3 separate regions of the Homo sapiens genome follow, and all the other regions are reported to be linked to region 1. Evidence: microRNA targets listed by miRTarBase, many of them from high-throughput screens and not tested one by one. Region 1 holds a microRNA gene; each other region holds the end of a gene's coding sequence.

Region 1 (3,129 bases):
CTGACTTCCCGGCCTGGCTTCTAACCCCAGACAGTGGGGCCACCTGCACACCTTTGGAATATCTGGACCAAAGCCACCTGAGACCCAAGCCTGACCCACTTTATACAGAATTCTGCCCTGCAGAAGATATTATCTGTTGGCGGGCCTAGGCTTGCTGGCATGTAGACCGGGGAAGTCAAGGGGCACCTGTTGGCACGAGTGGCGAGCCCTGCTAAAGAAAGCTGCTTTCAGCACCCTCTGGCCCTCCTTTGCCTTGTGAACTTAATTGCGTTAGGGACAGTGGATTTCTCTGTGTCCTAGATAATAAGAAATCCCTGCCAAGTAATTATTGCAAACAGCCTGGACAGCCAGTGGGGGTGGGGAGGTGCAAAGGGAATCCACACATGGAGCGCCTCGGGGCCTGGGGGAAACGCTACAAAGCGGAGTTCTAGAAGGCTGGCAGGTGGCCTATCTCTGCACAGCAGGGCTCTTCCCAGCCAAGGGGTCTGCACATGGGGCTTTGTGGGTGAGGGGATGAGGCCTAGGGCAGCGTGCCCTGTGTCTCCAGACCCAGGTTTCCTCATCTGTAAAGTTGTGGTCATCATAGGCCACCCTTTCCCCTGAGGCTGAGAGGATGTTCAGACTGGCCCAGCTGGCGCCTGCTGCCCAGGAGGTTAGAAAGGACCCCGGTAGGGTTGTGGTGTGCAGGGGACAGGCTCCAGGTCTCTGCACCTCCTCATGTGGCATTTCTCTGTGATCTGCTGTTACCTGATCCTCCCAGGGCATCTGGAACCCCTGCTCTGGGTCAGAATTTTCTGCAGAGCTCCCTGTCACCAGTCAAAGAGTTAGGAGGGTGCTAGGAGGGGCCTGGGATTTTAGATCAGGAAACAACCAGGTTCAAGTCTCATGTCGGACGAAGCTTCAGGCAAATGCTTAGGCCCTCATTCTTCACCTGTGAGTAGGTAAGGCCACCTCCAGAGCCGGGCAGATGACAGAGGTGCCTCTTCAGTAGTAGGTTTTAGTCAGGGTGCTGCTACCATTCATCGCGATCCACCCACAATCCACGCAGAAACAGAAGCCCAGACGGTAGGGGCAGAGGCTGCCTTCCCTCATGACAGCTGGTGGCTTGGGTAGGGGCACACTGGGATAAAGGCAAAACTCAGAGATGAAGGCCACTGTCTGGGAGCAGTTGAGTAAGTTAGAACCGGAAGAATTGACAAGGAAGGGAGATGGAAGGAAGGCCCCCGCTGCAGAGCCTCTGCTGCATGTACCAGAGGCAAAGGCCCAGTGCGGGTGCCGAGGCTTGGATTCTGGGCGAGTCCCGGCTCAGCCTGTGGGAACTGGAGCCTTGGGCGTGCAGCATAAGCACCGTACCCCATTTTCTTCTCTGAAACGGGGAACCCGATCCCTGCCTTGTGGGGCTGGAACACTCACAGCAGAGCGCTGGCACGTGCCTAGGGGCTGTCGCTGTTTTTGTTTACTGTTGTTAGTACCTTTCTTACCCTGAACGTTGATTCCCATCGAGGCCAAGTGACTTTCCAAGAGGTGGTGCTGTGGTGACTGCCTTGGAAGTAATGTAGTGATGACAGTAATGGTCACAGTTAGTTGTGTTTCCTGCCCCACCTGACTGGCTAGAGCAACTGTCAAACGGGACATGAGTCCAGGTGGTGTGGCTCAGAGCCCCAGGTGGCCCTGCAAAGAGGTTGGGTATGGAGCCAAACCCAGCTCCAGTGAGCCCCGACAGGGACGCGCCCCTCCTACCACTGAGGGTTTTGTCCCGAAGGGCTGGACCGCCTGACCAGCTGCCTGTGTGTGCCACAGATTGTCCTGCTGAAGGATCAGAGGAAGTGCTTCAGCATCGACAACCCCGGCTACGAGCCCGAAGTTGTGGCAGTGCACCCCGGCGGGGACACGGTGGCAATTGGGGGTGTGGTAAGTCGCTTTCCTCTCCCCCGTGCTCTCTGTCCTTGGTATCTGGGTGATTTGGGGACAGTGTGAGCTGTGTGAGTACCGGGGCTGTCTCAGGGAAGGCGAGGGGTCAGGGGAAGGATGGGGGCAGTCGGGGCGTGGGACCTGCTCTGGGGCCCAGCCACGCCATCTCCTGCCACCCAGGGCTGGAGCCTTCCCCTCCCCTCCTCGGCACTTCCCCCACCTCACTGCCCGGGTGCCCACAAGACTGTGGACAGTGAGGTAGAGGGAGTGCCGAGGAGGGCACAGCTGTGCCTCAGAGCCAGCCCCATGAGTGGCGGCAGGAGGGGAGCGCAAGAGGGTAGCAGGTCAGGAAATCAAGGAATGGCATCCCCTGGGGCTGGGCTCGGCTCACAGGTTGAAGGAAGAGTGACAGAAGTTTCCCAGCATCTTCAAGGTGCGGTACTAACCAGACATTTTACAGTTTCCCTTGAGTTCTGCCTCGGCATAATTCTCATGCCCTTGAATTTGTGTGTGTGGTCTGGTCACAGTGTGCCTGGCCAAGTCCTGAGTGCTCTGTAGAAGAGCTCATTTCCCCTCTCCAGCCCAGGAGGGCAGCCCTCTGATAACCCAGTCCTGCAGCAGGCGTGGCAGTGCCCTCCATGCTAGGGGCTGGGTGGGTCTATGTGCTGCCAGGTCCTTCAGGTGCCGGATGTGACCAGGGCATGGAGTGGCTTCCTCCACCAGCCAGCTTGAGGGCCTCATGAGACCAGCGGTGCCCCGAGGTACCAACAGCTGTTTTCATAGAGCTGCGTAGGTTTCAGGCCCATCCACGGGAAGAGCCATGCCCAGCTCCTGGCATGGGCCCAGCAGAGCAGCAGTCAGTGGGAACGGCACAGTTTCTTAAGCCCTCGACCCCCCCTTCACAAAGGATGGGTGTGGTGTGTGTGTTCAGGGGTGGCTCACTTCCTCTCTGTCCCTGCCGTAGGACGGCAACGTCCGCCTGTATTCCATCCTGGGCACCACGCTGAAGGATGAGGGCAAGCTCCTAGAGGCCAAGGGCCCCGTGACCGACGTGGCCTACTCCCACGACGGCGCCTTCCTCGCGGTGTGCGACGCCAGCAAGGTGGTCACAGTGTTCAGCGTTGCTGACGGCTACTCGGTGAGTGGCGGCGGGCTCCTCCTCTGTCCCCGTGCTGGGCGGTGCAGGTGGCAGTGGGAGGTTATCTGTGACTTGGTGAC
Region 2 (3,000 bases), not on the chromosome of region 1:
CTATTTGGCTTGATTAAACAACTATTCAACTACCAGGTCTCCCCTCTACTTGGAGGCTTCCTCCAGGACCCCTGATGATGAGGCCTGGGTCCAAACAGTCACACCTCAGTTGCTTTTCAGAAACATGCCTCCCAACTTTGGGATTTGAGAGCCAGCCTTGCCAGCCATTTGAAGCCCAGAGAAACAGCCTCCAGCCTTTACTTGCTATTACAATGTTATTTTCTGCAATGCTGAGGACACTTAAAAATAAAATCTATCTAGAAAGTGTGCAGATTAAAGAAACAAAATATCCTGAAATAACTGTTACAAGCAAATCCTATTGCACTCAGATTTCAAGATGGCAGCCCCAGCAAAAGGGCATCACAGCTGTCCCTCTTCAACAGGACATTTTGAGTAGCAGCAGATGTTGGTGCTGCTGAAATGTGGAAAGATCCAGACTTTGGCACCAGGAGCTATAGCACCAGAATCCAGGGCTCCAACACTCAAAGACAAGAATTATTGGCGAGATCTTTTTAGGCATGGCTTGGCGCCCTTCTGTTTCCATCAGCAGAGAAGAGCCACAGACTTAGTTTCCTAATACCTTTAGTTGACCACCACAGAGGTTGATTTTCTTTGAACTCTCAAGGTTGCCAACCAGTGAAGGAGAATGGCAGGGAGGCTGCAAGTGAAGGATGGCAGCCTTGAGTGAGCTAGTTTCTGGCCAGTAAGCCAGGAGAAGCAGCAGTAAGAGATCTTGGAAATAGCATCTTGAGCATCAGAGGTGGGGATGTGGACAGGAAAGGCAGGCCACATGACAATGCCTTTAGATTGGCAAAACTCTGGGAAGCAGAAGTATGAGCAATAGATTCCTGTCCCTGAAAGTAAGGTAGGTGCTCCCCAAGCCTCCTCACTGCCAAATCTGATACAGACAAGGTCAGGATGAACACTGGTTCCCATGCTGAGTGAAGGCAGAGAAGACAAATTCCTCTGGAGGAAGTCTTGAGTCTTCCTCTTGCCAGGAAATTCATAGGAGATGCACAGGAACAGGAGATACACAGACTTGGGTACTTTCCATAATACCTAGACTCCTAGAACGCCAGGAGATACTGTGTGGCACTGGGCAAGGCTGATGCCACAAAGAGCCTCAGAGACCATCCCATCTAATCCCTTCACACTTTGCAGATTGGGAAACAGGCCCACGGAGCTTCTCTGAGCTCATCCCCATGAGATTAAAACATACAGAAACTAAAAAACAAGGCCCAGAAAAACAATTGAGGGCAGGAGGGAAGAACCCACACGGATGATACCTTCCACAAGCAAAAATCATCCCATACTATTATAGATGGTGAAAACAGGAGAACCTTAGAATACCAGATTTGGTGCCCTTAGAGATCATCCATTTCAAAGAACTCATTTTACAGACAGGGAAACTGAGGCTCCAAGAAGACAATGACTCACCCAAGGTCACACAGCAAGGAAGTAAAGCCATGGGGAAAAAAATCCAGCTTACCAGACTGGTAGTTTAATGTTCTCTCATTCTGAGGGCAATAGTGTCTACTTCATAAAGGTAGCCTTTGAAAGAGGATCCCTTCTTTGAATTGACAGAATGCTAAAGAAAAAGCACTGCCAAGAATATACAATTCTTTTCAACTTCCCCATGTGACTGGTATAAGGAACCTAACCAATTTATTTACGTGGCTTTCTGAAAAGTTTGCTGCATTTTGAACTATATAAAGCTGAGGCCCTCAATGCGTATGTACGTATCACCTTTCCTCCAGCGAAGTCATCATGATAGTCGACTTGCAGAAATCCGGGGCCCACTTCTGTAGGAATGCATCAGCTTGGTAAAGTGCGATGCCTCCTCCATGGGGGATGGAGAAGGAGGAACAGGAGGGAGTAGTCTCACAGTCCATGCCTCTCATGGAGCTATTGCTTGTGGAGTGACTAAAGGGGTCTGCTTTCCCTCTTGCTGGGCACTTCCTAGAAGGCAGAGGATGCTGGGTCAGGCCCAGCTTAGCCTAGGGATTTTCCCAAGGTGGAAACAATGAAGTCAGCTTGAAGTCTCCAGCCACTGGAGAGAAAGCAGGCGATGCCAGCAGCATTACTGGTGCTCAGGAAAGGAGATGCATGAGGCTTGCACCTCCAGGTGCCTTTGGAAGGTGAGCAGAGAGAGCTGGGGTTGGGGAGGGATGATGTCATTCCAATGGGTATCCGCATGAGTATCTGCATGCTCTGCTTCCAGGAGACTGGTAAGCCAGGAGCCAGGTCAAACTTCAACCTAAAGGGTAGTCTCATAATCCTTTAGAGGCAGCACAGACCCCTTTCTGCTTTAAGTCTGAAGAAAAGAACTCCAAGGGGAAAGAAATGAAAGCCCCCTAGATAGAGCTGATGGCTGGTAAATCTTATGGGGTACTTGAGCCCATTGGGCAAATGAGGAGTGAAGTGGATATAGTGAGGAGACTGAGAAACCAGAACATTAACCACACAGACAGAGGCTGCCCTAGGATCCAGAAACAACCCACCAAGGAGCCGAGAAGAATTTTTGACTCCTGCTGTGTGCTGGGGACTTTATCTTCCCTTGTTTGGGGGCCAGAATGGTCCAACTACTTGGTGGACAGGGACAAGGAGAGAGAGAGGACTCGTGCATTGGGGAAGGTTGGGCCTGGGTGACTGTCCAGCTTGTAGTCTCTGATTCCCTCTGGCCAAATGGCAAAAATTACCTGAGCCACAGCCCGGCTCTACCACAGTTTTCCAGCCAAGGCTTGTGTCTTGCCTGGTTAACTGGCCTTGGATCCTTCGTGGGGCAGGACGGTGGAAGAGCTGAGAAGCAGGAGCAGAGGGCAGACAACAGACACCCAGCGGGCTCAGTTCTCCTCAGCACAGGGCCTGGTTGGCCGTAATCGTTCCTCGGCCCGTACTCGCCCAGACTCTGGCAGCCCCTGCTTCCCAGGCAGTTCAGACGGATCCAGGGAGTTGTGCAGTTGCCTGTAGACACTGAGTGTACAGTCTTCCCCTTCTTCC
Region 3 (3,000 bases), not on the chromosome of region 1:
TAGCACTGCACTTAAAGGCATTACAAAATCAGGATAAAGTGAATCCTGATCATGGATTTTTAGGACATGCGTTTTAGTATTTAGTACTGTTCTTGCAATACTTACAACCAACACTTTAAAACAACATGCAAACACTCCATTTTTTTTTCCCAAAGCTTCACTATGTATTGAGAAAAGGCTATTTTTGGCTTTTCAATATACAACCAATGCATGAATGATTGCTCAGTATTTGCTTCATACAATTTGAGTGTACCTTTAAGCTAAAAAATGCCCTGTAATGGGTGCCATGCTATATTGCCAAGTACCCTAGTCCAGTGGAGGAACAGGATGGATGTTACAGAATGATTTTTGTCTTTGACTTCTTGATTGCCATTCATTAAAGTGCTATTCTACATAACTCCTCTGGTGGCTGGATGTCCAAAAATCATAAAATTATCCGTTCATCTGCTCCAAAGGTGAATGTCCATTTTAAACACAAGACAAAAACATCCTGTATTTAGCTGTACCCATGATGTGCATGCACACAGTCGTGGTTCCCAGTGGGCGGTTCCTGGACCAACAGCACCAATATCACCTGGAAACTACTTGAAATGCAAATGCTCTGTACCACTCCAGAAGTACTGAAATCTTATTCTGTGGGGTGGAGGGCCCAGTGGCCTCTGCTTACCAAGCCCTCCAGGGGAATCTAAGTTTTCCAATGCTAAGTTTGCAAACCACAGAATTCAATCATCTGTACGCAGATTAAGTAAACTATATGAATGAGAAAAAAAAAAAATACAGATTAACTTATGCTGTTGGCATTGGTAAGATGAGTTCACAAGGTAACATGAGCATGCAGGGCCTTGGTAGCTCAGACCCCAGACCCCTTGCTCAAGAAACTCAAGAGAAAAGATTTAGGGAACGGAATGCAACTTGCAAACCAGTAACCAGGAGACCAGCCACTACTGATTCTAATCTATGCAGTTTTCTGTTCTCCTTGTCCAAACTTGATTAGCTACATGTGTGTGTGACACCAGCTTGCAACACACTCCGTGAGGTGCCAATCCAGGCATGTCCTCTACAATAGACAGACCACGTCACAATCGGCCGAAAGCCCACAGGACATCACTGACTGCATCACTGTTAGAAGAATCACAGTAGGAAACATTTTCATTTTTATTTATTTTTTGAGACAGTTTCACTCGTCGCCCAGGCTGGAGTGCAATGGCGTGATGTCGGCTCACTGCAACCTCTGCCTCCCGGGTTCAAGCGGTTCTCCTGCCTCAGCCTCCCAAGTAGCTGGGATTACAGGCGTTAGCCACCACGCATGGCTAATTTTCTAATTTTTAGTAGAGATGGGGTTTCAACATGTTTGTCAGGCTGATCTTGAACCCCTGACCTCAGGTGATCCGCCTGCCTGGGCCTCCCAAAGTGTTGGGATTACAGGCATGAGCCACTGTGCCCGGCCGACATTTTTATTCTTTAATAGCAATTAGGATAAAGGACTCAAAATTGTACTTAGTAATCACATTGGCATAGCACATGCTATTTGGAAAAAAAATTTTTTTTCTGAGATGTTCCTTGCTGTATGATACAGGCCTATTCTATGACAGGAGCAACGCAAACGATGACCATGTTCCAGTGAGCAAGACTCAATCTCTCAAATGAACAAGAGCCTTGGCTGATTCTAAACACTTTCTTTGCTACAGCACATGATCAAATGATTAGAGTTTTTCAGAGCTTAGAAAGGGTAACCATCTAATCATGACAGAGTTCTTCAGCATTAATAATCAAGAAAGGCACTTTAGGGACATTTGACAAGGAATGACACTAATACAATGAGAATTGGTCTAAGTCCTGCACAAGACTTTGATACAGTTCAAATAGACTGCACACTCTTTCTGTCCCCATGTGTACATACATATTCATACAGGTGGTACAATCTATGTCTCCACTTGCATGTGTATGTATATATCTGTGTATATATAAATATATGTGTGTATATATACCAACATCTATATACATATGTGTGTGTGTGCAAATGTGTATCCATAAGACCATAGAGGGGGAAAAGACATTTGTTTCCTTTAATTGAATAGTACACAAAAATTCTAGTCACTTTATTTAGAACAAAGAATAAGAGTATTGGCAAATTAATGCAAAAAAGTACCCTACTAAACCTTTCTATGCACAAAAAAGAGCAGTAAAATAAATACTCAGAACTTTCCCAGGTTGTCAACTATTAAAATAAAACCTCAGCATTTCAAAAAAGCTTATTCCGCTGCAGGAAAGAAGGTGGACATTTTTGGTACCATAATAAATCACACACTCACACATCCATATTGCTTAGGTTGAAGAGAACGGAATGAACAGAGGAAATTTCTTCCATGAATTGCCCTCCTTTCGGTACCCGCCATGTTTTAGTTACGTTGTATTATTCCACTTAGCTTAAAATATAAAGTCTTGTAGAAACACATTTTTAGGATGTTGAAGTTCTCAAGATATTTGCACAGAATATTTAGAAGTACTTAGAGGAGTTTTGTTAAATGCAGTTGGTCATACTACATACCCCATGGTTGCAGTTTTGACAGACCAAATGCATCTGTGTCAGAAATAGACAAAAGGCATATACTCCTCCTTCCTAGAAACGGGTACATAGACATGTTCTTATTCTTGGGATATGAAAAAACAAGTAGTAATGGCATTTAAAGTTTAATTACTAACTGTATAATGCCTGAGAACAAAATTCAGAGCAATTCTCAAAAGGGTTAAGAGTCAGACTCTGGGCATTTTCGTTTTTTAGCTGCAGGCTCCTCAGTCTCGTGTGATTCTAAAGTGCTTGCATTAGATTTGAGGCTGGTGTCTGCTTTAAGGTTGTCCATGGCAACGGTGAAGCCGGAGAGAAGATAACCCCCACCTCCACTCATCAGCAGTTTAGGATGACTTCGATCTGGCAAAACCTAATCAAGACAGAAAAGACATTCATGCTTTCCTAAGACAATAAAGTCCATGCTAACAACA

What was found. The annotated mature microRNA hsa-miR-3138 reads UGUGGACAGUGAGGUAGAGGGAGU and lies in region 1 at 2,157-2,180, shown strand. An mRNA with a match to its seed (bases 2 to 7 or 8) in the 3' UTR can be bound and repressed. Matches are read on the target gene's strand: a 7mer-m8 pairs with bases 2 to 8, a 7mer-A1 pairs with bases 2 to 7 and ends in A, and an 8mer does both.
Region 2: the mRNA of LUZP1 is a reported target of hsa-miR-3138. Seed matches in the 3' UTR shown: 7mer-m8 at 2,590-2,596 and 8mer at 768-775.
Region 3: miRTarBase lists TRMT6 as a target of hsa-miR-3138. Seed matches in the 3' UTR shown: 7mer-m8 at 2,275-2,281.

What each region holds. Positions count from the first base shown.
Region 1 is chr4:10,077,673-10,080,801 of GRCh38, reverse strand. MIR3138 (microRNA 3138) reads left to right here and starts at 2,110; the gene lies at 2,110-2,191. It overlaps WDR1 (WD repeat domain 1), which reads left to right. Exons shown (of 15, transcript NM_017491.5): 12 at 1,801-1,911; 13 at 2,876-3,049.
Region 2 is chr1:23,086,052-23,089,051 of GRCh38, forward strand. It overlaps LUZP1 (leucine zipper protein 1), which reads right to left. Exons shown (of 4, transcript NM_001395462.2): 4 at 1-3,000. The coding sequence ends at 2,844. Among named protein-coding and RNA genes, the nearest start is that of MIR3115, 43 kb to the left of the region's middle.
Region 3 is chr20:5,935,788-5,938,787 of GRCh38, forward strand. It overlaps TRMT6 (tRNA methyltransferase 6 non-catalytic subunit), which reads right to left. Exons shown (of 11, transcript NM_015939.5): 11 at 1,441-2,939. The coding sequence ends at 2,748. Among named protein-coding and RNA genes, the nearest start is that of TRMT6, 13 kb to the right of the region's middle.